2 separate regions of the Homo sapiens genome follow, and region 1 is linked to region 2. The links come from fine-mapping of genetic effects on gene expression. A gene starts in region 2. The other region holds a variant in brackets. All regions are shown on one strand. Distances are between the middles of the regions. Region 1 overlaps TBC1D2B (TBC1 domain family member 2B). Region 2 holds the start of TBC1D2B (TBC1 domain family member 2B).

What was found. PIP is the estimated chance that this variant, and not a neighbour inherited with it, causes the effect.
Region 1: its variant is fine-mapped to the expression of TBC1D2B in whole blood (INTERVAL, PIP above 0.99).

What each region holds. Positions count from the first base shown.
Region 1 is chr15:78,035,783-78,050,043 of GRCh38, forward strand. It overlaps TBC1D2B (TBC1 domain family member 2B), which reads right to left. Exons shown (of 13, transcript NM_144572.2): 3 at 9,118-9,286. Among named protein-coding and RNA genes, the nearest start is that of TBC1D2B, 35 kb to the right of the region's middle. RefSeq lists a silencer at 11,539-11,618. The variant A/G (reference allele first, on the strand shown) is at 9,815.
Region 2 is chr15:78,070,472-78,087,787 of GRCh38, forward strand. TBC1D2B (TBC1 domain family member 2B) reads right to left here and starts at 7,240. Exons shown (of 13, transcript NM_144572.2): 1 at 6,822-7,240. The coding sequence starts at 7,181. RefSeq lists silencers at 6,716-6,915, 7,116-7,325, 7,476-7,525 and enhancers at 13,541-14,041, 13,565-13,624.

The sequences.
Region 1 (14,261 bases), 36 kb before region 2:
CCATGGCTAGGAAACTGCTTAAATAACTTAGGGCACATTCCTATAACCGAATTCTGTTAGAACAAGAGCTCTAGTAAGGGCTAACAAGTTTGGACATTCCAGATAAGTGCCTATATAATGTGTCAGCTCAAAGGGGCATGGCAGGTGGCCCTACACTCTCCACCACTGCTGACCCCTCCTGACCCATCTGCTGGTGAGAGCACAGCTTTGGTGCAAGTGGGCCTCATGACATGGTAAATACAGATAAGCCATGTCTGAGCGAAGAGTGAGCATTCTAAGTCCCTGAAGTAGCTATGCACTGACATAGTGGATACTGTACAATCCCTCTAAGTCACATACACACAGAGCGAAGTTCAGGGTGCAGACATAAGTACCTTCAGTTCTAGTGGTGACTTCTGGGAAGTGGACTTAAAAGGACTTTCATTTTTAACTGTGTACCCCTCAGCAATGATTGATTTTTCTTTTTATACGCATGCACGCTTATTGCAATGAAGTACAAACACACAACTAAGAAGGCAGGCCAAATGGGGAAGCTGTCAGGTGGCAGGCCTGCAAGCCAGGTCACTTGCTATGGTTTGAATATCTCCTCCAAAACTCATGTTGAAATGTAATAATCATTGTGACGGTATTAAGAGGTGGGACCATTAAGAGGTGATTAGGCCATGAAGGCTCAGTCTTCACGAATGGATTAACACCGTTATCTGGGGAGTGGGCCTAGATTCAACTACAGAAGAGGAGACAGCAATGTGGCCAAGGAAGCAGTGATTTAGAGCAAGGCAGCCACAGGCCAAGGAATACCAGCAGCCACCAGAAGCTGAAGGAGGCCAGGAACTAACTCTGCCCTGGAGCCTCTGAAGAAAGCAGTCCTGCCAACACCTTAACTTAGGCCTAGTGAAGCTGAGTTTGAATTTCTGGCCTCCCAAACTATCAAACAATAAATAGGTGCTGTTTTAAGCCACCAGTGTTATGGTCACTTGTTATAGCAGCCAGAGCAAATTAACACAATTACTCTCTAGTAAGCTATCGTCCTTCAAACCAAGGACTTCGAGAGGCTGCTTTCTGTTGTGGTCCAGGCTTCAGCTGGCATTCAAGTTTGGAGCATTAACGTCCAAAGTCAGAATATATTTACTTCTGATATGATGTCTTTTGGTCTTGAGGACCTGGAAAGGTGTCATCAGAAAGACAGTTTCCAAAATACTCTAGACATTTACCTGGACAGATGAGTACATCACCCTTCCAATTTTAAGACATCAGAGCAAACACCTAATAAACATGCACAGCCTCAAAGAAACCAAACATCTAAGAAACAATATTCTTACTGTAGAACTTTCAGACAGGTACAGCTCCACAGGTTCCCTACTGTCCAAAGGGCAGACACCCCCACCCCTTCACCCTGGGAGTCCCTGGCCTCCTCAGCTCCTCTTCTATCCTCACCCCCTTAGCACCCTACGCACCTGGCACCAGAACCCATGCCACTCTTGAGACACACCCTGTTCTGACTTCCTTGCCTCTGCATGGGTGTCCTTGCACTTGCATTCCCCTTTGGACAGTCCCTCTCCATCTCTCAAGCCCTTTAAGCCAAAACTCATCTTCACAGCAAAACCATCACCGGCCTCTCCCACAACCCACACTGCAAAGAATAAGCACTTCTTCCTGGTGTGCCCAGGTAGGCCGTGACATACTGGGTTCAGCCTTGAACCGCACCCTACAGCCCCTGTGGCAGGACTCACGGGCTCGCCTGCCTGTCTTCCTGAAGAACCTTAAACAGCTGACAGCGGGGAGGGACAGCCTCTTACCCAAGGGAACATCCTCAGCCCCATCCCATAGTGGAGGGGAGAGGAAGATGCAGCAGGGTGGGAGGGAGGGCCAGCTGCCCAGCCAGGCAGTCCTGCAGAACGGGCTTCTCAAATGCAGGTGATGACCCACTGGGGGCCAGGACATCAATTAAGGAGTGAGGAAATCAATTTTGAGGGTCATGACAAGCATTTTTTTAGTATTAGAAGAGAAAATACTACTTAGCTTTACTACATGTAGCAGTGGAATTTTTCTTTCAGTTTTATTTACATAACAACAGTATACATTTACATACAAAGATGTGTATTTTCTGCTGTCAGTTCCCAGTCAAAAAAGTGAACAATGCTGTGTCAGAAGGTAACATCCTGCCCAGGAAGCCAAACAGAAAGAAAAGTGCTGAGAGGAACTGTCGTCCTGCTAGGGAAGGGAGTGTGGCACAAGGGCAGGTGGGTGTGGGCAGACCCCCCCACGAGTATAAAGGGCAGAGGATGAGAAGCCCCCAAGCAGCGGGAGCAAGAGCAGCAGAGCAACTCTGCCCCTGGAAGGGTCTGGAGCCTTCCCTCATCACTCTTCCTCAAGTCGGTGCTGGACACCCACCATGAGCCAGGCAGTGTGAGGTGCTGGGGTAAACCAGAGACAAGACAGATAGGGTCCCTGCCCCATGGAGCTCCCAGCCTTGCAAGAGAGCTGGACCACAGACAAGTACACAAAGAAATACAGAAACTACAGGGCTATGAAGGAGAAGCACGGCAGTGAGGAGTGGGAGGAACAGAGAAGGCTTCTCTGAAGAATGAGCAGAAGTAACCAGAGAAGACAGAGCCCTCCCTGCAATGGGACAGCCTGAGGCAGGGCCTGTTGGGAAGACATACACCTGAAGAACTGAAAGAAGTCAAGTGGGCCTGCAACAGAGGAAATGACAGGGGTCAGACCCCACGGGACCCTGAAGGCCATGTTCAGCAGCACAGCCTTCAGCCTAAGGCAATGAGAAGCCTCTGAAAGGCTGAGGCAGTCGATTGAATTGATTCAGGTCCCTTAGAATTGGGTCCCTGCAACAGGTGGACCCAGCACAGGCACAGGATGCAGACAGGTGCCCTTCCTCAGCCCCCAACTCTAAATACAACCGGAGACATGGCCCAATTGCTCCCTTGGTGGCCCTGGACAAGACATTAAAGTTCTCTGAGCCTCAGCTTGCCATGCTGAGTCATGGTGAAAGGTCTCCGAGTCTACAGGCCAAAGCCACTGGTCCTCTCATGACCGCAGTGATTTCCATGGAACAGTGTCATACACCGATGGCCCTTCTGATATGTGGGCCCCTGGGAGCATGTGAATGGATCAAGACCAAGAGGACTACTGGGACATAATTGCTAAGCACGACTTCATGCTCCTGGGGGCTATCAGAAAAGACCAGGTGCCATTGCACCACTGCAGAAACACACACACACCCCAGCCAACTTCCTGCAACTGCTGAAACTCCATGGGCCAAAGAGCAAGTTGCCTTCCTTTCTGCTTCCTTCTCCAGAAGTCCTGGCTTAAAAAATGTCTGTGTGAGGCAGCAGCATGGTGACTACATGCCTTGTCTTTCTTGGCAGACATAGCTGTGCCTTCCAACAAGGAAAATCACAAGTACCACATTACGGCTCCGGGACAGGAAAAACTTCCCCTAATTCACCAAACATCCGGGTGCCTGCTTTGGGCTGCGCCGGGCCCTCTGCTACGAACTGGGGCTGAAGAGAGGAGTCACTGTCATGACTTTACGGTCCTAGACACTAAAACCATAATAGATTCTTGGGAACCCCCGCCATGCTCACAAATAACTCTTTCTACCAGGCCTGAGGGAGTCAAGAGAGAAGCAAAAACAAAGGATCAGAGCGGGGCCAACTGCAGGGCCCGCAGAAGACCTATGGGAGGCAGGCCTGGAAGGATGAGCACACCTTCCCGGCTAGCTCAGCCCTTACACCTGCATTGAGAAAGGCACCCCATCCACCTGACTCAAGGAAGTGGAGACTCACTTCACCTACTGGCTCAAAAGAGACAGGGTAACAACAGTGGCAGCAATACCAGCAGGCCTGGGTTGTGTAGCCACCATTTACTGAGCACTTACAATGACACTGTGCTAGGCAGTTCTTATTTATAACCTTAACACTCACTCCCACCCATCCAGTAGAGAGGCTTACTACACACACACACACACACACACACACACACACACGCAATTTACTGATGGAGAAAATAAAGCTCAGAGAAGTTAAGTCACTAGCTCAACATCACACACCCAATAAGTAGCAGGACTGGGATTCCAAAACCTGGGCTGACTACAATATCCACAATGTGACCCCACTCTTGAACAGAACTAGAGCTGGACCCCAGGAGCCAGAGGTCCACATCAGGCCCAGCCTAGCACCCAGAGATGGGCGCACAGTCCAGGCCACAAAGCCACAGAACTTTGCTGACTGCTGTCAGCGCTGCTGCAGCCTAAGCACACCTCCTACATACACTGAAAATACACGCTCAACCGCCACACAGGCTTCCAATGCACGCTCACACGTGTGCTCAGGCATGCGCTTTCTCACTCTTGCTTGCGCACTCCCACCCCTGAGTATGCACATACACACATGGACTGGCCAGAATTTCAGCAGAGACCTAGTTCCTTCACCTGGTGTGATTTGGACTGTTGAAAAGTTAAATGAAAAATGTGGTTAAAGCAGGAATCCATATAAAAGGAACTTAAAACAAACACATGCACCTGTAAAGGTGTATGTAAATGTGCACTCATCTGCCAGTCTACTGATACACACCAGCCAAAGCCTCTTCTTGGAATCTGGGGATACTGGGCATGGTGACACGTGCCTAAATTTCCAGCTACTCGGGGGGCTGAGGTGTGAGGATCACTTGAGCCCAGAAGTTCAAGGGTTCAGTAAGCCAAGATCATGCCACTACACTCCAGCCTGGGTGACAAAGTAGAGACCCTGTCTCAAAAAATGAAAAAAGAAAAGAAAGGAAAGGAAAGGGGAGAAAGAAAGAGAGAAAGTGAGAGAGAAAGAAAGAGAGAGAGAAAGAAAAAGAAAGAAAGGAAGAGAAAGAAAGAAAGAGAAAGAAAAAGAAAAGAAAGAAAGAAAGGGGGGGAGGGAGGGAGGAAGGAAGGAGAGAGAAAAGGAAGGAAGGAAGGAAAGAAGGGAGGGAGGGAGAGAGGAAGAGAGAAAGAAAGAAAGAAGGAAGGAAGGAAAGAAAGAAAGAAAAAGCAAGAAAGAAGGAAAGAAAGAAAAAAGAAAGAAAGAAAGGAAGAAAGAAAGAAAGAAAGAAAGAAAGAGAGAGAGAGAGAAAGAAAGAAAGAAAGAAAAGGGAGGCAGGGAGGGAGGAAGGAAGAGATCAATCTGGGGATACTAACTGCAGTTCTCTGTTATCTTTCTTGGGCAAATCACATCCATTAAGACATCAGCTAACTTTCCCAATTTTGTTTGTTTCTTATTAAAAAGTGGAACAAGGCCTAACAGTTGTGAAACAATCTAAGCATAAAATCTTACAGGGTTTTAAGTTTTTTTTCTTTGATTTTTCACGATCATGTCACCCACATCCTCACAGCAATTTTTTCAGTGACTCACCTTTATCAAATTTTCCCTAAGCATTCAACTTATTTTTCCTAGAAACAACAATTCCTTTTTTATATTTCACGGGTTTAGTAAATATCTCATTGAATTACATAATTACAATAATAAGTACAACGGGCATTAACCAGTGAGGAACAAACCCAGCTGATTCTTGGTAGGTCTGTAGCTCAGCTGGTGGGGGCAGCAGGGACACAGGTGCCCTGAAGTGGCCCATTTGGTCTCATGCAGTCAGTCAGTGAGGACCATGGCTCTACTGAGGAACCTTAAAATGTCAGTTCATCAGGGGAGCTAGTTAAGAGAGTTTCAACTATACTGATAAATAGAATAAAAGAATAAACCTTCATTTATCTTTTAAGCCTTGACCATAATGTTGACAGCATTTTGAGTGCATTAAAAAATACAATTTTTGAGCCATTCATTTATAATACAGTAATCTATTTTAGGGTCACTAAAGTCTGTCTGTGCACCTAAGGCATTTTATTTAAAACTTCATAAAGCATGCCATAAGTAAAAACAAACAAAAGAAAAACAAAAAACCATAAACACTTAAGATTCATATGCCAGTCAATAAGCATTAGTGTCTACAGAAAGTGGTCCCAAAAACCTCTGTGAAGAATGGCTTTGTCATGAGCTGTGCCTCCACCAGCAACAGCAACAACTAACACTCGCCTAGTACTTCCTAAGTGCCAGGGACTGTTCTAAGCAGTTTACACATATGAATTCATCATCATGCTATCAATCTCATGATGTATGATTATTATCTTCATATTACAAATGAGAAACGGAGGCACAGAATATTAAGTAACTTGCCCAAGTTATCCAGCTACTAAGTGGCATAGCTGGGAGTTGAACTCAGGCAGCCTGGTTCTTAATCACTGTGTTACACGGCAAAGGCACAGCTGATAGAAGATAACTCCTACACTAGATTTTTCACCCTGAATGTGATCTGTCAGCTGTGACAGGCAGAAGTGACAGGCGTTCACTTTCCTAGGCAGGAGGCACTCAATCATCATCCATGTTCCTATGCTCAAGGACATGGAAAACACCCAGCATTACAGGTCTATTTCCACCTCATTCCATTATCTCACTTTGAGGGCAGATGACACAGCTTAGGTATGAAAATCTGGCAAATCAATAGTCCCCCAAATGTGTTCTTATGATGAAAGGGGGAAGGAGCACTGGGTCCCCAATTAGGAGACCTGGGTGTGTGTTCAGCTCGGCCACACACTTGCTATGTGATCTTGAGCAAGTCACTTTACCTCTCTAAGCCTCAACCTTTTAACATGTGGAATGAAGGGAGGCTCTCAGTGGTTTTCTGACACTTTTAGGAGCACAGATCCCTTTCTTTACTGAGAAGCCCAATACTTTGAAACAGAGGAAATCAGTGGTTCTCAAGCTGCAGGTACCTAGGGAAGGCAGCCCCACTGTGCCTCCCGGATGACCCCTCCCCATCCCCTGGGTGCTGGGAGATGACTGGACTTAATCAGATGGCACAGGGCAGACAGGCACATGGTGAGCAGAGGTTCTGGGATGAAGAGGAAGGCACAGAATGGCCGGAACACAGAGGCTCACAAAGTGCTAATACTGGGAACAGCTGCCCAAGGAAGAGACTAATGTCGTATCGTTGAGAACCTCAAATATCAGACCAAAGAGTTTGGAGCTGCACTTGCAGGCTGAGGGCTATCAGCGTAGGGAGATGACATGATCAGAGCTGACTCAAGAGAGAAAACAGCAAAAAGCCGATGAATGGGAGCAGAGCAGGACCAAGAAGGTGGGACTGCAGCCACAAGCCAGGATGAGGAAGGAAGGCAGGGCCCACTACAGTGATCACCCTCACAAGTGCTGGTCTTCTGAGGTCTGAGTACCCCTGACATTCAGCTCCAATATAACCTATATATATCCTATATATCCCACTCAGCTTCAATATAAACCTATGCCTTAAAAACTAAAAACACACAGAAAATAACTTTATCATACTGAATTCAACCACGAAGGTACAAAAAAGAAAGCAGTTACAGCAAAGAGGCTACTTTTTAAAACAGTGTGTCCTTGGATGGTAGCTTCTAAGAACACCCCAGCCCCATCCTGAAAAACCAGTGGGACCCCTTATGGAGCTCAGCTGGCCAACTGCATAGTGACCACTGGCTTGGACTCTACAGGACAGCAAGAAACTTCCAAGTCTCCCACAACGCACTGCCACTACAACCTTTCTCTTTTTTCATTTTTTCTTTTTTTTGAGACAGGGTTTCACCACGTTGCCCAGGCTGGAGTGCAGTGATGCGAACTCAGCTCACTGCAGCCTCGACCTCTTGGCCTCAAGTGATTTTCCCACCTCAGCCTCCAAGTAATTGGGACCGCAGGCATGCATCACCACCCCCAGCTAATGGATAAACAAAATATGGCACATTCATATATGGGAATATTATTTGGCCATAAAAGGAAATGAAGCACTGATAGTTGCTACAGCATGGATGAATCTTGAAAATATTATGCTAACGGAAAGAAGCCAGACACAAAGGTATGCACGGTGCCATTTATATGAAATGTCCACAATAAACAAATTCATAAGCCAGGGGCAGTGGCTCATGTAATCCCAGCACTTTGGGAGGCCAAGGTAGGATTGCTTGAGCCCAGAAGTTGAGACCAGCCCGTGCAAGATAGAGGGAACCCTGTCTCTACAAAATAAATAAATAAATAAAATATTAGCCGGGCATGGTGGTGCACACCTGTAGTCCCAGCTACTCTGGAAGCTGAGGTAGGAGGATTGCTTCGTTCAAGGCTGCAGTCAGCCATGAACCACGCAACTGCATGCCAGCCTGGGTAACAGAACAAGACCTTATCTTAAAAAAAAAAAAAAAACCCACCAAAAAACAAATTCATAGAGATAGAAAGTTGATTAGGAGTTGCCTACGGCTGAGGGTTGACAGAGGAGAAGGGGTTGGGGGAAATGAGAAGGAACTGCTAATGTAATGAGTTTCTTTTTGGATCGATGAAAACATTTAAAAATTGATTGTGGTGATGGAAGCACAACTCTGTGAATATACCAAAAATCATTGAATTGTACATTTTAAATGGGTGAATTGTACAGTGTGTGAATTGTATATCAATAAAGTTCTTCTTTAAAAAACAAGTCAACCATAGTGGCACATGCCTGTAGTCCCAACTACTCAAGAGGCTGAGGCAGGAGGATCACTTGAGCCCAGGACTTGAGACCAGCCTGGGCAACACAGCAAGACCTCATCTCATAAAAACCAACCAAACGAACAAAAACCAACCCACCTCTACTCTCACTAGCCCATGCACAAACAGAGAATGGAAATCCAGAGCACAGGACGTGGCCAGCCTAGTGTCTTGGAGAGGGGACTAGGCCCTAGGCACAAGAAGCCCCAGCTCTGCAGCCTGGAAGAATTGTGACCTCAGACACATACTCTCCTTCAGCCAGTTTCAGTCTCTGTAAAATGTCAGCCATATGACCTACTTCACAGAGTTGAGCAATTAAATTAAACCGTTTAAGTGTGAAACTGTTTGGCATAGTGTCAGACACAGAATAAGCATGTAATACAAGCTAAAACCACAATGATCTATGGGAAAGTATGATGTAAACAACAAAGGCCTTTGTAAGTGTAAGATAGTTTTATAACTTCATTTATAAAATTATAACATACATTATCAGAAACAACCCATTTTCAATTTCATATGCTGCTTTCTAAAGACTCACTTGAGCTCATTGCCCCACTGTTTCAAAGAGTAAAAATTAATGGAATTTGGATGCCCTGGGGCGGGCTGATTTGCAGCTTGTTCTCCCACCAGCTCTCCAGGCACAGTCTCCACAGCTAGGACATTTCTGGCTTTTTCTGCAGAAGCATTTGGGTGTGGGTAAATTAAATCTGAAAAAAAAGGTAAACAAATGTCAGTTACTCAAAGCTTCCACACGAAACTTGACATCCCACATAAAACACTGACTTGACATACTATATAAAAATCTAAACTATGTAATAGTATATTTTTAATGTATACTACATAAAAACATAATCTGTGGGTAACTCTGATGTTCTGAAACCATCTTCATCTAAACAGATCCATGTTTCTCAAAGGAAGGTTGTGACATGCCTCAAACCACCAAGTATTAACAGTGTTGGCCCAGAGAAAGCAAAGGCTAGAATTTTCCTCCAGTACTGCAGACCAATAACCCTCACCATAAACCCGTCATCAAAGTCCAATCACCTGTACTGATAAGAAACAATTTCCAGGATAAACTGTTATATAAGAAAAGCAAGGTGCAGATCAGATTATACAAGGGTCCCTTTTCTCTAAGAAAGTGGGAGAAATACAAATATAAATGTATTTGCTTGTAAAGAGTGACAGTGAAAAAATAAAGTTTGCACATCACAGAATAGCAGTTCAGTAAATTCACA[A/G]GCAAACATACTGATGCTAAAGCATGATGAAACTTCACAACACATCTTTAAAATGTAAACTTTTGAAATAGTTAAGGTGGAAATGATATGATGGTCAGGATTTACTTCAAAATAGCAACATTTTGTTACTTAACAAATACATAGTAATATTTGCTTCAGGTAACATGTTATTTGCTTGAAAATAACAAAGCAGGGTATCAATGAAACGAGGGGTAATTACTGTTCCAACTACCTAATAAACCTAGAGGTAATATTATGTTATTCTTCGTATATGTTTAAAATTTCCCATAATAAAAAGTTACTTAAAATTTTTTTGTTTTTGATAAAAACATTTTTCTTTTTTTTTCCCCCATAGACGGAGTTTTGCTCTTGTTGCCCAGGACAGAATGCAATGGCGCGGTCTCGGCTCACTGCAACCTCCTCCTCCTGGGTTCAAGCGATTCTTCTGCCTCAGCCTCCCAAGTAGCTGGGATTACAGGCACCCAGCACCACACCTGGCTAATTTTTGTATTTTTAGTACAGACGAGGTTTCACCATGTTGGCCAGGCTGGTCGCGAACTCCTGACCTCAGGTGATCCACCCGTCTCGGCCTCCCAAAGTGCTGGGATTACAGGCATGAGCCACTGTGCCCGGCTGATAAAAACATTTCTAACTACAAATACTTTGTATTCTTCCAAATAACATAATCTGCACTGGTATTTCAGTGGTAGAATTATCCCATGCCGAATGGCATAATCTCTCTGAGAATAGGACATGCTTATAAACAGAATTCAATATTACTTTACAATAATCAATTTGATCTACACTTCTTTTTAAAATATCTCTATATCAACAAAATCAACCATCTCTTTCTGTGAAATCAGAATTGACTGCTGACCACTGATATTCAAGAAAAATTATTTTCTCTTTTTTTTTTTGAGATAGGGTCTCAGTGAACACGACTCACTGCAGCCTCAACCTCCCAGGCTCATGCAATCCTCTTGCTTCAGCCTACCAAGTAGCTGGGACTACAGGCACGCACGATGCCCAGCTAATTTTTGTATTTTTTTTTTCTTTTGTAGAGACAGGGTTTGCCATATTGCCCAAACTAGTCTTGAATGCCTGGGTTCAAGCAATTCTTCCACCTTGGCGTCCCAAAGTGCTGGGAATACAGGCATAAGCCACTGTACCCAGCCAAGAAAAATTCGTTTCTAATCAGAGAAGCACACAATCAGAGTCAGCAAGAACAGGTCTCTGGTAAAGGTCACTGAGCACTGGTAAAGGAAACAGAGAGCAGGCATTCCTGTGCTGCGCAGGCTTGGAGAGCAACGTCCTGAATGCCACATGATGGGCCTGCACTGTGTAGGCAGGTTCTGACTTGACCACAATCAGTGTAGGAAGGGCTTCAAGAACACACTGGGGAAGTATCTTGGGCATGGCATGAGTAAACAAGTGCTGTGTATCTATCAGGGTAATTTGGCTCTGGCCAGGAGAGTCAATGCATGGCTTACAGTAGGGTTCTGACTAAGAAAAGCAAGACGGTGTGCTGGGAACAGAAGAATTACAGACTTGGTAACAGAGTATACACTTTTTTTTTTTTTTTTTTGAGACTGGGTCTCACTCTGTCACTAAGGCCTGGAGTGCAGTGGTGTGATCACGGCTCACTGCAGCCTCTTGAGTCAAGAGGCAAGAAGTTACAAATAACCACAGATTGCCAGTTCTTGGTTTTACTATCATGTATTAAGCACTAGGCACCGAGGGCACAACAACCAATGAGACAGAGCTTTCCCCGTAAAGGAGAACACATCCAGGAGAGAGACATAAGTAAAACAGTAACATGTCAAGCTCCAAGTCACTACAGAATAAATACATTGAGTCGTTGGGATCCAGACCCTTCCTGTGAGTCTTAGGGTTCCAGGAGATGCCTGGGGGACTTCTAGAGGGAAAAGAGGATGGGGGCCCCATGCTCAGCTTCATCCTCAGCAGTTCCTCCTTCACTCTTTTATATACTAGGGTTGCCTTTAAGATTTCATTTGGAAAAGAGGTTCCAGTAAACAAAAGAAAAAAAAGTTCAAACACCACTAATCCAGTCCAGTCTCCCTACCTACTTTCTCCATCAGGACACTAGAGTCCAGAGCCAGGGCCAGAACCCAGACACCTGCCCCTGCAGTATACAAATATTGCAAGGCAGGTAGAGATGAGTGTACCTACTAGAGAGCACAGTGTCTGGAGTGGGGGGCAGGGGGTGCTCAATGTTGGTGACACCATGTGTCAGTCTACAGGCACATGGGGTAAAGGTGCAGCTCAAACTCCTTTACTTCAAAGGCTGGTCTTACAATCATCATCACAATTCTAAGCCAAGTCAGGAAATAAACACAACAAACTGTACAGATTTCTGTTACAGGCTGAGTCCAGCCTCTTCTTCCTGTGTGGGCTAGTAGCAAGGTGATGAACGGCCCCTCTGCGAGACTGGACTGTCAAATGCTCATGTGGCAAAGTGCCTATTACCAAGAAAACCCCAGGCCTTGCAGCAACCCACAGCCCATACTGGAAATACTTCCTGAGGAACTCAGAGGCCCCAAGGAGGGGTGGAGAAAAGGGACCAGAGACCAGGGAGGAACACGTTGGAGGAAAATTTCTAAAAGTAATTATCTGACTTGAAAAAGAAGCTCTTTTCCAGCTTAATACATTTTTGCTGTTACTGTTATTTTTGTCTGGTTTTTGGTTTTTAAGAGACCACGTGAGATTTACTTAATGAAAAGCAGAGCTGCTGGCTTCTCCTCAATACATGTCCTAACATTAGCATGCAGGAAACCGCCTCAAGGAGGACACTAAGGGAAAACACAAACTAGGACATGGCAACATTTCCTCGAAGATTTTAAGAGGCTGGACTAGTGTTCATGAACATGTCTTTTGTCTTACAGCTTCAGTGGGGAAAGAAAGTCTGTGCCTGACGGTTTTTGGTGTTTAGACCTCTGTCTTTTTTAAACATTTTCAAATGCCTAAATGAAAACTCTGAGGGAGTTTCCGACTGCATTGTTCCCATTTCCTAGGTTCTGATTCCAGCACTGCCTCTAAATCCAGTGTGAACCCGGGCAGTCTCAGCCTCCCTGGTCTCCAAGAGCCCTTCCCACTTACTGCATTCTAACACATGATGCTCAAAGTCTCCTCCTAATGGGACTCCCCGCACAGGGGCGGCTCCTGCCTACAACCGGACTGCCTCAGTGAGTCTTCCCTCTCCTCTCCTGCTGTCTCAGTCAGGCCTAGGTGCTCCGCCAGCAACCTCTGCAGAGCACAGAACTGTGTACAGTGGGAGAATTCTCATAAAACTCAACCCAGGCTTGCAGCTGCATCCAAGAAAGGAGAAAAGAACACTGGGAAAGGGTTGTACCCATATGCATCAAAGCACACAGCAAACGAAAGTCTGGGTGTCAACACTGGGAGTTGGAGGAAGACAGGGTGGGTTTAATCTGAAAAAAATTTTTTTATTTATCAATGTGAGTTTTAATACAGATTGTGAAGGACCCAGTCAGGAGGAATAGAAATATCTTCCAAGTGAGGACATAGCATACATCTAAGTACCAGAAAAAAGGGGCAGCCAACCACCAGGTCCTGAGAGGCCCCAGGATGGGCCAGTCCATATGTCTGGTTAATTGCTCATTTGCCTGTCCCCTACCCCCATCAAGGACACAACTCTGTGAGAACTGAACCTCTATCTGATTTGCTAACAGCTGCATATCCAACACCTAGCATAGAGGAGTGACTTAATAAATATTGGTTAAATGACCAAATTAATCCATAAAAGACAAGAACTTGCTAACATGGCATGGGACAAAAGGCCAATTGGGCAGAAGGCAGCAAAGGCCCCTGCAGTTCTTGAGTGGGTTTATACTCATCATACTTCCTGACTTTCCTCTCTCCTGCCACCTTGCCTCTGACAGATGCCCTGAATTGGGGTGGGGGTTTCCCTGGGGTGGGGGTTTCCCTCTTTTCCTTTCCCATTCCTCCCTGTTCTCCTGCAATCTGGCTCAGCCACCACCCCACCCCCATTCACAGCCACATCAATCCCTGTATTCACCTGCACCAAGTCCCACCAAATCTAGGCTGAGGATGTCTCTGCTGACACCAAATTGCAAGCCTGTTCCACATAGACTCCTTTCCAACCCTCTCTAGCAGGCTCCTCCGAGACAGAACTGCAATCTAACCCCACTCAGCATCTCCCTCACATCCTCCCTCCCACAGTCACATTCTTTCACAACCTGACTTTCACAGACTGGTTCAGAGAGCATCTTGCTTTACAGATGGGGAAATTATGATGTGCTCAAGGTCCCATAAGCTCTCCCCATGCTGCCTCTCAGATACAACACTGGTAACTACCATGACTGATACTTCACAAGAACGCATGGTATTTTGCAGCATTTTACAAGGATTACACAAAAGCACAGCTTCCTTGATCTCTGTATGGAAT
Region 2 (17,316 bases):
GGACAGGGACTGTTTGTCTTGTCCAGTCATATCCCCAGTGCCTAAGCACACACAGTGAGTGAATGAGTGGGAAGCTCCTGAGGCCTTCCTAGAACACAAGTCAGTGAACTACAGCCTGCGGTCATTTCCAGTCTCTGCCTATTTCTGTACAATCTACAAGGCAAGGGCAGTTTTAACATTTTTATTTTGCTATTTTATTTTTTTGAAACAGGGTCTCCCTCTGTCACCCAGGCTGGAGTACAGTGGAGCAAACACAGCTCACTGCAATGTCCACCTCCTGGGATCAAGCAGTCCTCCTGCCTCAGCCTCCCAAGTAGCTGGGACTAAAGACATGTGCCATCATGCCTGGCTAGTTTGTTTTTTGTTTTGAGACAGAGTTTCGCTCTTGTCGCCCAGGCTGGAGTGCAATGGCGCCACCTCAGCTTGCTGCAACCTCTGTTTCCTGGGTTCAAGCAATTCTCCTGCCTCAGCCTCCCAAGCAGCTGGGATTACAGGCATCCGCCACCACACCCAGCTAATTTTGTATTTTTAGTAGAGACAGGGTCTCACCATGCTGGTCAGGCTGGTCTCAAACTCCTGACCTCAAGTGATCCACCCACCTCGGCTTCCCAAAGTGCTGGGATTACAGGCGTGAGCCACCACATCCAGCCACACCTGGCTAGTTTTTTTTAATTTTTGTAGGGATAGGGTCTCACTTTGTTGCCTAGGCTGGTCTCGAACTATTGGTATCAAGTGATCCTCCCATTTCGGCCTCCCAAAGTGCTGGGATTACAGGAGTGAGCCACTGTGCCCAGCTAACATTTTTAAATGGTTGAAAAAAATCAAAAGAATATTTTGCGAAATGTGAAAATTATATGAAATCCAAATTTCAGAGTCCATAACTAAAAGTTAAAACACAGCTATACTCATTCTGTGGTTGTTTCTGTACTACAACAGCATAGTGACAGATATGGCAGAGTGCGCAAAACCTAAAATAGTATGTGGCCCTTTACATAAAAAGTTTGCCTCTGCTATAACAGTGTCCTTGGAGTCCTGACCATGGGCATGAAATATATGAGACCCGAAAATATGGAACTGACTGTAAGCTCTCTCCTCTGGGGAAGGGTGAGTCATAACCCCCTTTTGGATTCCTGATGTCTGTTAAATTCAGTGGGCATTCACTGAATGGCTGCCACCTCCATGACATGAGGCAAGAATGGCATGTAATACACCTGTATATTTGGGAGTTCTGGCTGATCACTTCTAAAGGGTCAGGGCTCACACCAAAACCAGTGCTTACTGGGTGACCATTTTCTATTCATTCATGCAACAAATGTCTACCTGGGCACCTTACCTTAGTCGGTTCAGGCTGTTATAACAAAAACACCACAGACTAAGTGGCTTAAACAACAGAAATTTACTCAGTTCTGAAGGCTGGAATGTCCAAAATCAAGGTGCTGGTCAATTTGGTTCCTGGCGGGGGCCCTCTTCCTGGTTTGCAAAGGAATGCCTTTTTGCTGTATCCTCATAGGTGGAAGGGGAGATCATCTCTCCAGGGTCTCTTTTTATAAAGGCACTAATCCCATTCGTGAAGGCTCCACCCTCATGAGTTAATTACCTCCCAAAGGCCCCACCTCTAAATATCATCACACTGGGAGCTGGCACTTCAACATACGAATTTTTCAGGAACACAAACACTAGTTTATAGCATGTCTCCTTTGTGCCAGATACTGTTGCAGGAGCTGAGGATACACACAGTCCTTAGGGAGCTTACCCTCTGGTTAGCAGGAAATAGGATGGAGACTCCCCTGCAATGAGGACTGTGTGAGGCAGTGGGAGAGGGAGACGGAATGCCACTGTGATATCACAAGCACAATACTGGACTTGCCTTGAAGGAACTTACTAATTGGAAAGCCATGAAAAGTTAAATTCCCATAACTTAAAGAGTTAAATAATGCTTCAAGACTGAGCAGATGCCCTAGGGCAGAACAGCTTAGAAGAACCAAACAGCAAAGGAGGCTGGTTCACCACATCTATTTTGCACTGAAAACAATATGATTACCCAAGCCGACAAATGTTTGTCATTAAGAGAAATTTCAACACCAGGGAATGTGCATTCCCACAAAAGTGGTTAAGAATAGGGGTACACAGCTATTCAGTTACGTGTGGCTCAGAAACCAGTACACATGTCTATTTAGCACCAAGCACCTACGGAGGGAGGAATTCATTTGCTGACGGTCTGATGACGCTCTCTTGCTCCAAAGTCTGCAGAGATCTGGAAGATCAAGGCTGTTTAAGCTTCACCCTCGGTCAGTCACATGCTCTCCTTCCCCTAAGTGCCTCAGATTCCAGTAAAGCTCTGTGAGAAGCCTCCAGCACCCCTACACACAGAGAGAGACGCACACAGGAAGCATCAGCCTCTGCTAGACCCTTGCAGCAGTTTCCAGACATGTCCAGCAAAAGGTACTAGGCATCCTGGTAAAGAACTGGGCAGTAAAATGTTCCCTTGTGATACCCACTATCCAAAAAGGACAGATATTAAATGCAATAGAAGGAAAGACTACTACTACGCCTTATCCGATCCCCAACAAAGTCAAAAAAAAGCAGACTTGTCAGAACAGACAATACAATTAGATACTACACATTTTAGACATTCACTATTCCTGGAGCCTCTACTTTCAGAGAGGGTCTGAGTCTAGCTTCATGATGTTGGCAAAATCACATCCCCTCTCTAGCCTCTATTACCTCATAAGGCACCAGATCAAATCCCTAAGTTTGGGAATAGAGGAGTTTCCCAAGAAATTCCTATATCAGCTTTCATTAAGACTTACATAGAAAAACATTTTGAAAAAGCCCAACAAAACCACAGCTTCTCCAGAGAGAGCTGAAAGACACTTTTAAATAAGAAAAACATATGATAATAGAATAAGAAAAGTGCTGATTTTTCTTTACTTTTTAACCCTCTGTGATAAGAAATGGTATTTGTAAAATTATATACCACTAGCTGAAGTCTGAGCAGGGCTAAATCCTAACTTAAAATCCTTAGAAATCAGGGTCTCCTCTATGGCTGGGCAGCCCTAAAGTGAAACATTAAGGCTTAAGGGAATCAGTTCTTGCATTTGAAAGACGAAAAGGAAGATAAATTGGTAATTTCCATACTTACACCATAAAGATTTTACTCCTACAGCTCAAAAGAAATAACTGTACAATGAAATTTAATTTTCTTAAAACACACGCCTGGCTGGGTGCGGTGGCTCATATCTGTAACCCCAGCACTTTGAGAGGCAGAGGCAGGTGGATCACGAGGTCAGGAGTTCGAGACCAGCCTGGCCAATATGGTGAAACCCCGTCTCTACTAAAAATACAAAAATTAGCTGGGAGCGGTGGCACGCGCCTATAGTCCCTCAGCTCGGAAGGCTGAGGCAGGAGAATTGCTTGAACCCGGGAGCCAGAGGTTGCAGTTAGCAGAGACTGTGCCACTGCACTCCAGCCTGGGCGACACAGCAAGACTCTGTTTCAAAAAAAAAAAGGGAGCAGGGTTTTAGAGTCGGGGTGTTTTTTGCTTGTTTGTTTGTTTGTTTGTTTGTTTTTAAGGTGGAGTCTCACTCTGTCGCTCAGGCTGGAGTGCAGTGGTGTGATCTCGGCTCACTGCAACCTCCGCCTCCCGGGTTCATGCAATTCTCCTGCCTCAGCCTCGCGAGCAGCTGGGACTACAGCGTGCGCCACCATGCCCAGCCAATTTTTGTATTTTTAGTAGAGATGGGGTTTCACCATATTGGCCAGGCTGGTCTCGAACTCCTGACCTCAAGTGATCCACTCGCCTCGGCCTCCCAAAGTGCTGGGATTACAGGCATGAGCCACCACGCCCGGCCTTCTCCTCCCTTCTTCCAGAAAGCCTTGCCTGATTTCCATTCCCATTGTTGTATACAGCCAACACTCGGTACTATCTTATTCTGTGACCAATTTAATTTTACATGTCAAAATATTCCTCCATTGTCAGTAACCCAAAGGAAAATGTATTTCCTTTCTTTAAAAAAAGAAATATTCTGAACCTACAAAAAGATGGATAGCATAATAGGACAAACACTGATATACCTATGACCCAGTCCAAGAAATAAAACACTGCAAAACAGGAGAAGCCCTGAGGCACCCATTCCCAATCACATCCTCCCTCTTCCCATCACAGGCAACCACTACCTGGAAACCAGAGCTCATCAGCCCCATAAAGCTCTTCCCCTCGCGAAAGAGCATACATCCTTATGATCTGTAGTACTGTTTCACATGATCTTCCTAACCTTTCTATAAGTGGTATCATTCTGAACACAATCAGTGTGTAACTTACTTCTTGTTCAATTTTATTGTTTGTGAGAGTAATCCACGTTGACACCTATAGCTCTAGTACCTTTGTTTACTACTGCATAATATTCCACTATATGAATACACTACATATTTGGCCAAAGACACTGCTTGATGTTTCATATGCCATGTAGTGCCTACTATTTTCCATACCACTATGGAAAATGCGCCAGCCATTTTCCATAACATTCTCCAGAATCCTCACAGCCACCTAATGAGGAAGGTATGATTCCCACTAGACCAAAGAGGAAACTGGAGCAGGGAACTGGTGTAATTTGTCCAATATGTGTGAGCAGCAGACTCCTGCTTCAAGTTCAAGTCCATCGAAGTTTAAAGCCACACTTCTGACAATGCGCCTTGTAACCCTGCTTATGTAGATTCTTATTTATTATTTTTTTTTTAATTTTTTTTGAGATGGAGTCTCACTCTGTCACCCAGGCTGAGTGCAGTGGCGCGATCTCTGCTCACTGCAAGCTCTTCCTCCCGGGTTCACGCCATTCTCCTGCCTCAGCCTCCCGAATAACTGGGACTACAGGCACCCGCCACCATGCCTGGCTAATTTTTTGTATATTTAATAGACATGGGGTGTCACCGTGTTAGCCAGGATGGTCTCGAGCTCCTGACCTCGTGATCCACCCGTCTCGGCCTCCCAAAGTGCTGGGATTACAGGAGATTCAGATTATTTTAATGAAAAAAACTGATAGAGTTCTACAGTCATCTGGGAAAAATGTGAAACACGATGCTCTATTTTCTTTAACAAACATCCCACAGGAAATTCGTCCGACACAGGGACAGCCCGTATGTACACTGAGGAAGAGCCTCTGCCTTTGGCAAAGGTCTCCCACTAGGGTCATTACCAAGTTTATACAGGCACTCTCTAAGTAAGCCTGTGTAGGACTGCAACCCGAGTTGGTTTTCTTTGGGGAAACAGGCTGTCTGCACCCACTTACAGACAGGACAGGGGAGCCCAAGAGAACATGGGAATCAGATCCTGCTTGAACTGGCAAAAGCTGAGTCAGCAAAGCTCTAAGAACATCTCCAGGGAGCAGCTCCAGCTGTTAGCAGCTCTGGGGGTCTGAGGAACAGTCCTCAGCTCACAAGGCCAGGAGTTTGCCTAGTCTGCTCTCCGTGTGGCCAGCTTTGAGAGCACTTTCATACATCCCAGCCCAACCCTGTTGCTCTGGAGAAAGCCCAACCTGGAATACGGAAGAGGAGTGAGAGTGAGGGTGGAGACTCACAGAAACCAGGCAGGGAGCAAAGCCTGGAAAAAGGATACCCAGCTCCAGGCCTGGGCCCAGATCCCTCCAGATGCTCAAAGCAGGTGGGCCCCTAGGAGGTGACAGTCTAGTCCCCCAGAACTCCCAAGGACAGGGGAGGCCTTTCAGCACCAGGACTCCTGACTCTACTCTCCTGCTTCTACACTGTATCTCTCATTTTGTCTGTCCACTGGAGGATTAAGGGAGCCTCAAAGGAGCAAGGCATAACTGGCTGAAAAGACCCCCTCCCACCCATCCTGGACAAAGCAAGGAGGAAGAACACAGGATCTGCCACCTACTGGCTGTGTGACCTTAGCTGGAGCATCCCCGTCCACTCTGGAGGAAAATGTAGTGGACTGTCTCTAAGGGCCCTGCCATCTGACTCTTTCTGTCTACAGTGCTAAATGCACTCTGGCTCACGCCTGGCATCCCAGCACTTTGGGAAGCTGGATGGGGAGGATGGTTTCGGCCCAGGAGTTCGAGACTAGCCTGGGCAACATAGTGAGACCCCCGTTTCTTTAAAAAAAAAAAAAAATTTAATTAGCCAGGCGTGGTGGCCCGCACCTGTGGTCCCAGCTACTTGGGAGGCTGAGGTGGGAGGATCTCTTGAGCCCAGGCATGGAGGCTGCAGTGAGCCGAGATCGCACCCCTGCACTCCAGCCTGGACAACAGAACAAGATCCTGTCTCAAAAAGAATAAATAAACAAATAAATAAAAGCACTGACATTTACTGAGCAGTTTAAAGTATAATTCATTTAATCCCAACACCCCATGAGGTAGATACTACTGTTATCCCATTTTACAGAGGAGGCCGCTGCAGCCCAGAGCGGTTCACTGAGGTACCAAGGCCATAGGCAAAGTTCTAAAGGAGGCCCCAGGGGTAGAAGCCTACGCTCACGGATGCCTGGGAAGGCTGCACAGGACATCCACGGGATGGTGGGGGTCGGGAGACACCAGAGACTGGCCCGAGGTTAGGCGCAGAGGGAGATAATGGGTCAAGGTGTCTGAGAAAGGAGACGGGGCTTGGTAGCCCCAGCGAGACTGGCCTAAGCCCAGATAGTGGGGAGGAGATAGGAACGAGGGCGGGATGTGGAGAAGCAGGGAAAGGCAGGCCGACGTGGGCAGGGGCGAGGAGGCCTTGGAGGAAGGAGGGTGGATGGCGCAAGCCAGTGGCGGAGGCAGGGGACGCCGGCGGAAGCGCGCGGGCGGCTTTGGGGCGAGCGGTCCCACCTTGAGCACCGTGACGGCTCCCGCGCTGTGCACCTGGAAGTGCGCGGGCGGCTCCGTGCCCGGCTCCGCCGCCTCGTCGGGGCCCTGGTAGCTGAAGCAGGCGTCCGCGATGTCCAAGTGGCCGAGGGGCAGCGCGTCCTGCGGACTCTTGAAATAGTAAAGGTAGCAGCGGCGCGCGTCGAACACGAACCAGCGGCTGCGGTAGCCACGCAGGGGGCCCTTGCCCGACAGCTTCTGCAGATAGCCACACAGCCGCGCTGGCTCCCGCGCCGGACCCGCCCCGGGCTCCGCGGCCGCCCCCTGCGCCGCGCCCTCGCCGCCGCCGCCGCCCTCCTCCGCCCGGGCTCCGGCCCCCGGCATCGCTACCGCGCGCCAACCGTAGGCGCCCGCGCCCTGCGCCTCCGCGCCGCGGCCGCTGCGCCCCCTACCCCCTCCGCACCGCCCCTTCGCTCCGCACGGCCCGCGGGCGCGCAAAGCACCCTGGGACTTGTAGTCTCGCCCCCGCCCGCCCGCCGGCCGTTGCCCCCTCAGCCCCCGGAGGCAGGGTCCTGCGACCAGCACCCCGCGGGTCAGTTGCCTTCGTGCCACCTGGGCTCCAAGTCCTCGCCCTGCCGGATGAAGCAATGGTCTATTTCTTTATGGCAGTGTAGGTACATGGGAGTGTGCATCTCTCAAAACCCAGCGGAGTGTCCGCTTAAAACTGCATTTCACACTGTGTATCTTATTCTAAAAACTTGATATTTAAATCTCCCTCCTGCCAGAGTCTCAAGCTAATATTGTAAAAATGAGACAGCCTATTGCCTGGTGCTGAGTGGGTGCTCAGTAAATATTTGCAGAATTCATGAAAGCCAAAGCGTTTCCTGCCTCTCCAGACCTCAGTTCATTTATTGAATTCAACATATATTTATTGAGCGCCTTCTGAATGCCGGGTACGGTTCTGTATGCCAGGCCCTGGCGGATACAGCAGTGAACAAACCAATCATTCTCCTGCCCTCGTGGAGGTTATATTCTAGTAAGGCAGGGAGGTGACACACAAGAAAGCAGATAAAAGTAATGTGTGCTATGTTGTATAAATGCCGTGATGACATGTAAATGATTACCGCTTAAAATAGCACCTAGTATTTATCAGTGCTTTATAGACTAACTTATTTGAACACTCACAACCTGAGAAGGCAAATCTATTGCTTTGTAATAAAGCAAAGAGAAAGAATGAATAAGACCAAGTATTTGCTAGCACAACAGGGTGACTACAGTCAAAAATAATATAATTGTACGTTTAAAAATAACCAAAAGAGTATAATACAGACGCGGTGGTTCACGCCTGTAATCCCAGCAGTTTGGGAGGCCGAGGTGGGTGGATCACCTGAGGTCGGGAGTTCGAGACCAGCCTGACCAACATGAAGAAACCCTGTCTCTACTAAAAATACAAAATTAGCTGGGCGTGGTGGTGCATGCCTGTAATCCCAGCTACTCGGGAGGCTGAAGCAAGAGAATCTCTTGAACCCCGGAGGTGGAGGTTGCAGTGAGCCGAGGTTGCGCCATTGCACTCCAGCCTGGGCAACAAGAGCAAAACTCTGTCTAAAAAGAAAAAAAAAAGTATAATAGGATTGTTTGTAACACAAAGGATAAATGCTTGAGGTGATGGATACCTTACTTACCCTGATTTGATTATTATGCATTGCATGCCTGTATTAAAATATCTCATGTAACCCATAAATATATACACCTACTATGTTCCCACAAGAATAAAAAATAAGTAAAAAGCAAAGTGAGAGGATGAAGTGATGGGGGGCAGATAGCAGGCTGCTGCCCCAGGACAGGCAAGGAGGCTGGTCTGATCCTGTGACATGGAGCACAAACCCAGATGATGGGAGGGACAGGGGCAACCAGAAATGTGGGTGAAGCATTCCAGGGAGAGGGAATAGTGAGTACAAGAGCTCACTTTATTCAAAGGAAAAAGGAAGTGTATAGCTACATAGCTACATTTGTGAAAGCCCAAACCAAATATCTCACCCTCATAGATTTGCATGTTTTATACAGACACACTGAAAGACCCAGGTGGAAAACTGACCTTTCTGAGCTGGACAGGGACACAAATTAGACTGCCTGTTTGGAGCCACCCAGGTAGGAAGGGCAGGTTCTGGGTCCTCACCCAGCCTGCCGACTCTCTGCAGGCCCTAAAGTGGCACCACGCAAGCATTCCTTTCCTGGGGCCCATCAGAGGTGTGGCTGACCTCTCCACCTGTCTTTGAGCACAATCAGCACAGTGTTAAGGACTGGGCTCTGACTTCACACTGACCAGATGTGTCTCCTAGCTCTGCCACTTACCAGAGGCATGACCTTGGGCAAGTGATTTAACCTCTCTGGGCCTCAGTCTCTTCATTTATAAAACAGGGTTGATAAATACAAGTAGCTATCTCGTGCTGTTGTTATTGAAAGGGTTACGTGAGAAATGCATATGAAAGTGCTTAGCACGGTGCCTCACACATAGTAAGCACTCAGCACATATCAGCTGTTATTATTATCATCTTGCAGTTAACACCGATGTCTTCCTCATCAGTCAGCAGATTCGGAGAGGGGGAATCCAACAGTCAGACCGGGCCCAGACAAGGGAGGCCAGACACTGCGGTGCTGCGGGAGTGGAGTGGGCTGCTCTCGGGAGCAAGGGGTCCCAAGTTCAATTTGGGCCTCACCATGTATGTAAAAGGGGCTGTGACTAATTGGCTTGTGGGGTAGGCAGTCAGGGTGAGGTCTGACCTTGAAATACTGTGGGAAAGGGAAGAGCTGGGAGAACCCGGTCTGTATTGCCATGGTACAGGGAGGCAACAGGACAGGGGAGGGTGTAGCCCATCTCTCCTAGATCTATCAGTAAGTTATAAGGAAGTGGGGGTGGCCATGACCTGTGGTCCCAGTGGACAGGACCAAGCCCCATGAGGTGTCTCACGGGGGCCGATGTCTGCTAGGCCCGAGGAAGGCATCCTTCACAGGCACAAGCCACGAGCCCCCCTCCTGGACTAAGAGTCTGGGCTGGCTGGCCAGGGCTAGGCAGATGGGACGGGACAGGGGTGCTGTTTTAAGCGGTAATCATCTACATGTCATCACGGCATTTATACAACATAGCACACATTACTTTTATCTGCTTTCTTGTGTGTCACCTCCCTGCCTTACTAGAATATAATCTCCACGAGGGTAGGAGAATGATTGGTTTGTTCACTGCTGTATCCGCCAGGGCCTGGCATGCAGAACCGTACCTGCTGTCTGTGCCCCTCAGTGGGCAAGCTGGACTTCAGCCTGACTCCCCTACACCTGAGCCTCCAATCCTTCCCTGGTCACCCAGCACAGATGAGCTGGGGCCATTTTAAAATGCTTGCAGGGCTGAGTGTGGTGGCTCACGCCTGTAATCCCAGCACTTTGGGAGGCCAAGGAGGGCAGATCACAAGGTCAGGAGTTTGAGACCTGCCTGGGCAACATGGTGAAAACCAATCTCTACTAAAAATACAAAAATGAGCCAGGCACGGTGGCACGTGCCTGTAATCCCAGCTACTCAGGAGGCCGAGGCAGGAGAATCGCTTGAGTCTGGGAGGAGGAGGTTGCAGTGAACCAAGATCGTGCCACTGCACTCCAGCCTGGGTAACAGAGCAAGGCTCTGTCTCAAAATAATAATAATAATAAAAATAAATAAAATGCTTGTAAGCCACTGCCCTCTTCCTTCTGGAGGCCACACCTGACATCATATCAAACATATTAAAATGCTCTACATCCCGTAGTAAACATATACATAATTTTTGCTATGAAAATGTTTTCAGGAATATCCATAATTGTGCTCTTGATATTATCTAATTATGAGTTTTCATTTTCATTTTTAATTGGCTGATTTCTTGGCAATCATCGTGTCTGTGTGGGAATTTTGGCCAAGTGAGAGAAACCTAACCTAGAAATTGTTCTCAAATGTAATGACCTTTTTTTTTTTTTTTTTTTTGGAGATGGGTCTCATTGTGTCACCCAGGCTGGAGTGCGGTGACGCTACCTCAACTCACTGCAACCTCCCCCTCCTGGGCTCAGGCAATCCTCCCACCTCAGCCTCCTGAGTAGCTGGAACCACAGGTGTGCGCAGCACCACGCTCAGCTAATTTTTGTATTTTTTGTAGAGATAGGTCTCTGCTATGTTGCCCAGGCTGGTCTCAAACTCCTGGTCTCAAGTGATCCTCCCACCTTGGCCTCCCAGAGTGCTGGGATTAAGGCATGAGCCAAGGTGCCCAGCTCTGTTATGACATTTTTATGATGACTATAAAGGTGACATGTTACATTTGTAGACATTTAATTAGATGTTCATTAATTCTAATTTTGCTGTTTTTCTTGGGTTTTAGAGCCAATACATTTTTCTTAGGCCACAAACATTTCACAGGCCTCTCAAGCAGGCAGGCCCAGGCACTGAGCTTTTTAGTATATTAGGGGATAAACTGGCCTGGCCCCTGCCTCGGTCTGGCCGGGTCCAGAATATGGCCCTCTGAGGAGGCTGCACAGACACAGGCCTGAGTCCCCAGTGAGAGTGGTAAAGTATGGAGGCCTCAAAGCCAACAGCAATGTCTCAGGAGGGTCCCCTGGAGGGCCCTGAGTCTCTGTCTACCCGACCAGGCTTAGGAAGTGGCCCAAGCCTTCCAAGGATCCCTAGAGCCTCCAGAATCAACCCTAAAACCCTCTTGACTCTCTAGACCTCCCCCAGGCCCCTCTTCCCCACTGACTCTCTCAAGACCCTGCTGAAATGCTTTTTATTTCGTGAACAAACCCTTCTCCCCTCATTCCTAGGGCCATGAGCTGAGGAGAACTAGGCAATGGGGCTTTATCTCATCTCTCTTAGTACCTCCATCTTCAGTCTGGACAATGTTTATAGTTTATGTAAATAGATATAGCTTCAGTTCTTCCCAAGGGCCTCCTACATGGAAATGTTGGGGCTGTCTCTGGTGGCTCCTAATTCCCTGAAACCCTTCGTAAATGGTTTGTTGACATCTGCAGTTCCTGAGGTCTCTTAGATTAAACAGTGATGTCCTGTGGTCAGGGCCAGCTTTATACAGCCTGTGTACCTTCCCTGCATCTAGTACAGGCATGAGAGGTGTTGAGGGGTCTGCCCTGCATGCCCATGTAAGCCCCTGCTTCCTCGAGCCGTCCAGGAACCCAGTGACCAGAAGGAAGTAACCACCCAGGAGGAAGTAGCTGGTGTTTACTGAAAAGGGGAAATTTGGGCAGTAAACTTGCTCCTACATGGCCAGCCTCTGGGAAAACCCTAGGGGAACACAGAGCCAGTGACTCATCCTAGGTCAGTCTCCCCAGAGTTGGTAGCATGTGCCCAGAGGCCTCTGAAGAAGCACTCACTGCACACTGCCTTTGTAGCTGTCAGACTCCAGGGAGACAGAGCTGGCCGAGATGCTGACCTCCCGTTGGAGGAGTGCACAGATCTGCAGGAGGCCCAGAGAGGAAAACAGCCTTATCACCTGTATGCTGTATGCCCCAGGGCATGTCCCTGCCCTCTCTGGGCTGCAGTTTTCCACCTGCACAACAAGGAGACGGATGGCTAAGTGATGTCCAAAGGCCTGCCCCTGCCTGCTCAGAAACACAACAGTGGCCTGAGACACAGCTGTGAGGGCCTGCAGTCATTCTTCCCACAGCTCTGCAGGCCAGTGGAGGCTATGCTCTTTTCAGTCCCACTGCTCAAAGCCCTCTGGACTGTTGCAGCCATCACAACCAAGCTGCCCCATCCCCTCAGGGCTCCACTCCATCTACAGGCTTGGCTGCCCACTGCAGTTGGTGCAAACATGACCCCTTTGAGGTGACACTTTTGCATCCTATGACCCTGGGCCCTGAAGGAGAAGCAGCCCTAATCGTCACCCCCATCCGGGGCACAAATGAAGGCCTTGTGTCCCTGAGGCAGACAGAAGCAGAGATAGCTGTGTTACTTGGGGGTTGGACAATGCTATCCTCGTAGGTCCTTGTGAAGGAAGTTGGCCTGATGAGGAGGGGATGGGGTGGGTGAAGAAGGTTGGGGGACTGGAGCTGTGAATGGGCCGAGCGCTGGAGGGCTAGGGGCAGGGCAGAGAAGAGCAAGCCCATCCTCAGAGCAGAGGATGCTTTGACCAGAGCACACAGCTGCCACAGGGAGACCCCAGACCAGAGAGAGGGCTTTCCAGGTATGTCCGCAAAGCTCTGAAAGGGGGCACCCTGCACCAAGCCTACTGCCCTGGTGGGAGGTTGTTGGGGGTACTGGGGCAGGGGTAGGGTGGTGGGGGAGTGGTTTCAAAATAAAGAAGGGGGCTGGGCCTGATGGCTCACACCTGTAATCCTAGCACTTTGAGAGGCTGAGGCGAGTGGATCACTTGAGCTCAGGAGTTTGAGACCAGTCTGGGCAACATGGCAAAACCCCATCTCTACAAAAAATTAGCTGGGCATGGTGGTGCATGCCTATAGTCCCAGCTACTTGGGGGTCTGAGGCAGGAGGATTGCTTGAGCCCAGGAAGTCAAGGTTGCAGCGAGCTGAGATTGCGCCACTGCACTCCAGCCTGGGTGACAAAGTGAGACCCTGTCTCTAAGTAAATAAATAAGGAACTATGGGCGCTTGGGCCAATCTCCCAGCCTCTCTGTGCCTCAGATTCCTCATCTGTACAATGGGGCATAATAACATTTACCCCTTAGAGCTGCTAGGGGCTTAAATGAGCCAGTAAATGCAAAACACTGGACACAGTCGCTGACGTACAACAAGTCTCAGTTTGGTAACTAATTCATTTAACAAACATCCCTGGCTCCTGCTCTTTGCCTCTGGCTGGTGATGGGTGGTGCTGAAAACTCACCACAAGACTAGGCCTGGCCCCACTGCAGGAAGCTCTCAGTTTTGTCAGGTGGGACAGCCTCAGAGAGAACAGCCCCAGCAAGGGAGCCCAGGGCTCTCAGACCATCTTGGACTGTGGACTCTGGCTTCCAGTAGGCCTCATTTCCCTACCAAATTGGCAGTCAAATTTGCATACCTCCTGGCTCTTTTTCTGAGAGGGAACAAATCTGAGGTGCTGGCCAATCTCCCAGCCCTGGGGCCAGGGGACCGAGGCTCAGACAGATGGAGGTCTGGGTGTCTCTGGGAGCTGATAGAGGGTAGAGGGTTGGCAGGGGCTTGGTACCAGGCAGTCAAGCCCAGCATGGGAGACAGGGAGAGTCACACTGCCCCAGGAGCAGGGGAGCACTAGACCCTGAGGAGGCAATGGGCCGCAGCTGCAGAGGCCTTGTGTCCTTCCTGTTACCACCCTGTTCCCAGGGCCTGGCGCCCGGCCCAGCACAGCGTAGTCCCCTCTGCCTTCACCTTTCTGCTTCCTAGAGGCCCTCATGCTGTCCCCTTCCCAGTGCCCCCATCACTCAGCCAAATCTGATCTCGGACACTTCCACCCTTCCCACACAAGCAGCAGGGACTAAAACCTACTTTGAGGCCAAGTCTGGAAGGTGGGGCATTTTAACTGACAGCTTAAAGAGATGCTGTTCTGATGGTGGAAGTTCAGGCATTCTTCTGGTTGGGCGAAGGGGTCTACGAAAGGAGTTTACGGCGTACTTATGTGAGCAAAGCAATGAAGAGGGAAGCGGGAAGAAGGCAGTCAGGATACATGAAGACAGGCACAGAAAAGACCCAGAAGAAGTAGATTCTGGAGTGGGAGGAATGTTTTTAAATGTGTTTCTTATTTGGAAGTTTGACTACATTGACTATTAATTTTGAATTAATGCATTTTTAAAGTATTTAAAGAATTTGGGTAGCAGGGAAAATGGCTGGAGCAATGGCATGGGAGGAGGATGCAGCATGTATAGGGGAGGAGGATGGGGTACGAGATTCTCGACTTGGCCCTGCCATGGACTTACTCCTTGTCTTGGACAGGCCATTTCCATTCTTGAGTTTCAGTGTCCCTGTCTTTATAATGGGAAAAAATGGGGACAGTAATGCTACCTTGTATACCTGCTATAAAGATGAAAGGAAATCATGTATGTGTGTATGTGAAGTACTTGGCACCTGGTAAGGGCTCAAAATCATTAGGAATCTACGGAGGACCTCTGTTTTCCCAGCTGTAAAGTGAGGGGAAGGGAGACAGGGATAGGACTAAATTGAGGAGCAAGCCCAGGGGCCCCAGCTGCCCAAGTTGCTAGGTGTACCAGGTCTCTGCAGCTGGGCCCCACGGTGGCCATCTGGCCTCCAAAAGGCTGTAGAATGAGGGTTCTCAAAATTATGGTCCTTGGCCCCTTGTCTTCCCTATGGTCCCTAAACTGATCCCAAAATCTCGTCCCTTCTCCAGCTGTCATGAGCAAACAGCAAGCAACTCTGAAGAATTTCACTTTTACATGGGACTCAGAAATACTCACTAGTGAGTCTGGATTATCTATAGCAAAATTAACTTGCGTCTTGTTCTTGCTGCTGAAACTGAGAGGTACACTGACAAGGGAGCCTCTCTGATCTAAGGGGTGGTTTTCCGCTCTGGGCTGTCAGGAGCAGAGACTACAGGCCCAGAGCCCCCCAGATGGGTGCTTTATGGCGCAGATGAGGTTGGCAATGTTTTTAAGACCGTGGTAGGTCCAGGGCACTCTCACCTTTGGAGTCTCCATCTCACTACTATCAAATATATGTAATTTTTAAATGGCATGGCCATATTTTACAATAAAAATATATATGTCTTTTGCTTTAAGCTTTTTGGAAAGGATTATTCTTATGATTTTGCTTTTGAAATGATTTGGCCTTGAGGAATTCATTTCACTTGCAATTGGTAATGATTTCTTGGCAGTCTTCTTGCACACTTGAGGATTTTTGTGAGCTAAGATAATCTGGCCTCCAAACCATTTTCAGATGTGATGAAACTTTTATGAATACGAAATGAAGCTGATGCAATATTACATAGTATAGACATTTACTTATACATTTATTCATTGTGATTTTGCATTTTTCTCCTTTTGAATTTTGGAGCCAATACTGGTTGTTTGTTTGTTTGTTTCTTCCAGGTCTCAGATCTTTTTATAGGCCCTTGGAAAGTTCCCAGCCCAGTACCTGGCCATTGTCCTAAGGATAAAATAGAACCACCTGTGTTTGGTGGGAGAAGGGCTGAGGGGGACCTCTCTGGACACTGCCCTCCCCAACCAGCAGCCATGTAGAAAGATGGCAAGACGAAGTCACTCAGTGGCCTTGAGGGACCAAAAGGATCACGATAACATTGGTGACTTCTCTGGACCAGCCATAGCCCTCTCCGCTGGTTTTTCCTGCATGCTGGGGGCCTCAAAATGACTGAAATTGAAAATATTATTCATTCATTTATTCAGTATTTACTGAGCCATAAATCAATACAACGCTTAACGAAAGCAATTTGGCATCATCTGCTAAAATGACAACTGCAAATACCCTTTGATTCAGCGATTCCACTTTCGAGAATGTGTTTCATGGATGTATTTATTCTTACACTTAATCAAATCCATATAAGGTTATCCATTGCTGCATTTTCAGGAATTAAAAAAAATTGGAAACAACTCAAATGACCATCAATAGAGGACTGGTTACAAAAATTATTATGTATTCATACAATGGAATAATATGCAGCTGTGAAAATAAGAATGGCACCCCTCTCTTTAGTCTTGTGGAAGGAGTGCCAAGATACACTGTTGAATTTTTTTTACAAGGCAAGGTGCAGAATGCTGTATAGTACTCTATCTTTTATGTAAGAAGGTGAGGAAAATAATATACACACTTGGCTGGGCGCAGTAGCTCATGCCTATAATCCCAACACCTTTAGTCCCAGCTACTCAAGAGGCTGAGGTGTGGGAGGATTGCTTGAGCCCAGGAGGTTGAGGGTGCAGTGAGCTGTGGTTGCACCACTGCACTCCAGCCTGGCCAACAGAGCAAGGCTTTGTCTCAAAAAAAGAAAAGAAGAGAAGAGAAGAGAAGGGAAAAAGAAAAGAAAAGAAAAAATATACATACTTATTTGGATGTACATAAACCCAGGAAGGACATTCAAGGAACAACTAACAGTGGTTATCTATGGGAATGAAATGTGGTTAGTAACTGGGTGGATGGGGTTAAATGCCTGGAGGAAAAATATTTTTACTGGTATCTTTTTATATTTGTCTTTTTAAATATTATGTTGATTTATCGTCTACTTGAATAATGAATTAAAATATATTTACTGAAGGCCAGGTACGGTGGTTCACGCCTGTAATCCCAGCACTTTGGGAGGCCAAAGCAGGTGGATCACCTGGGGTCAGGAGTTTGAGACCAGCTTGGCCAATGTGACAAAACCCCATCTCTATTAAAAATACAAAAATTAGCCAGGTGTGGTGGTGCATGCCTGTAGTCCCACCTACTTGGGTGGCTGAGGCAGGAAAATCGCTTTCACCTGGGAGTTGGAGGTTGCAATGAGTCAAGATCATGTCCACTATACTCCATCCTGGGCAACAGAGTGATACTCTCTCTCAAAAATAACATAAAATAACAGCATAA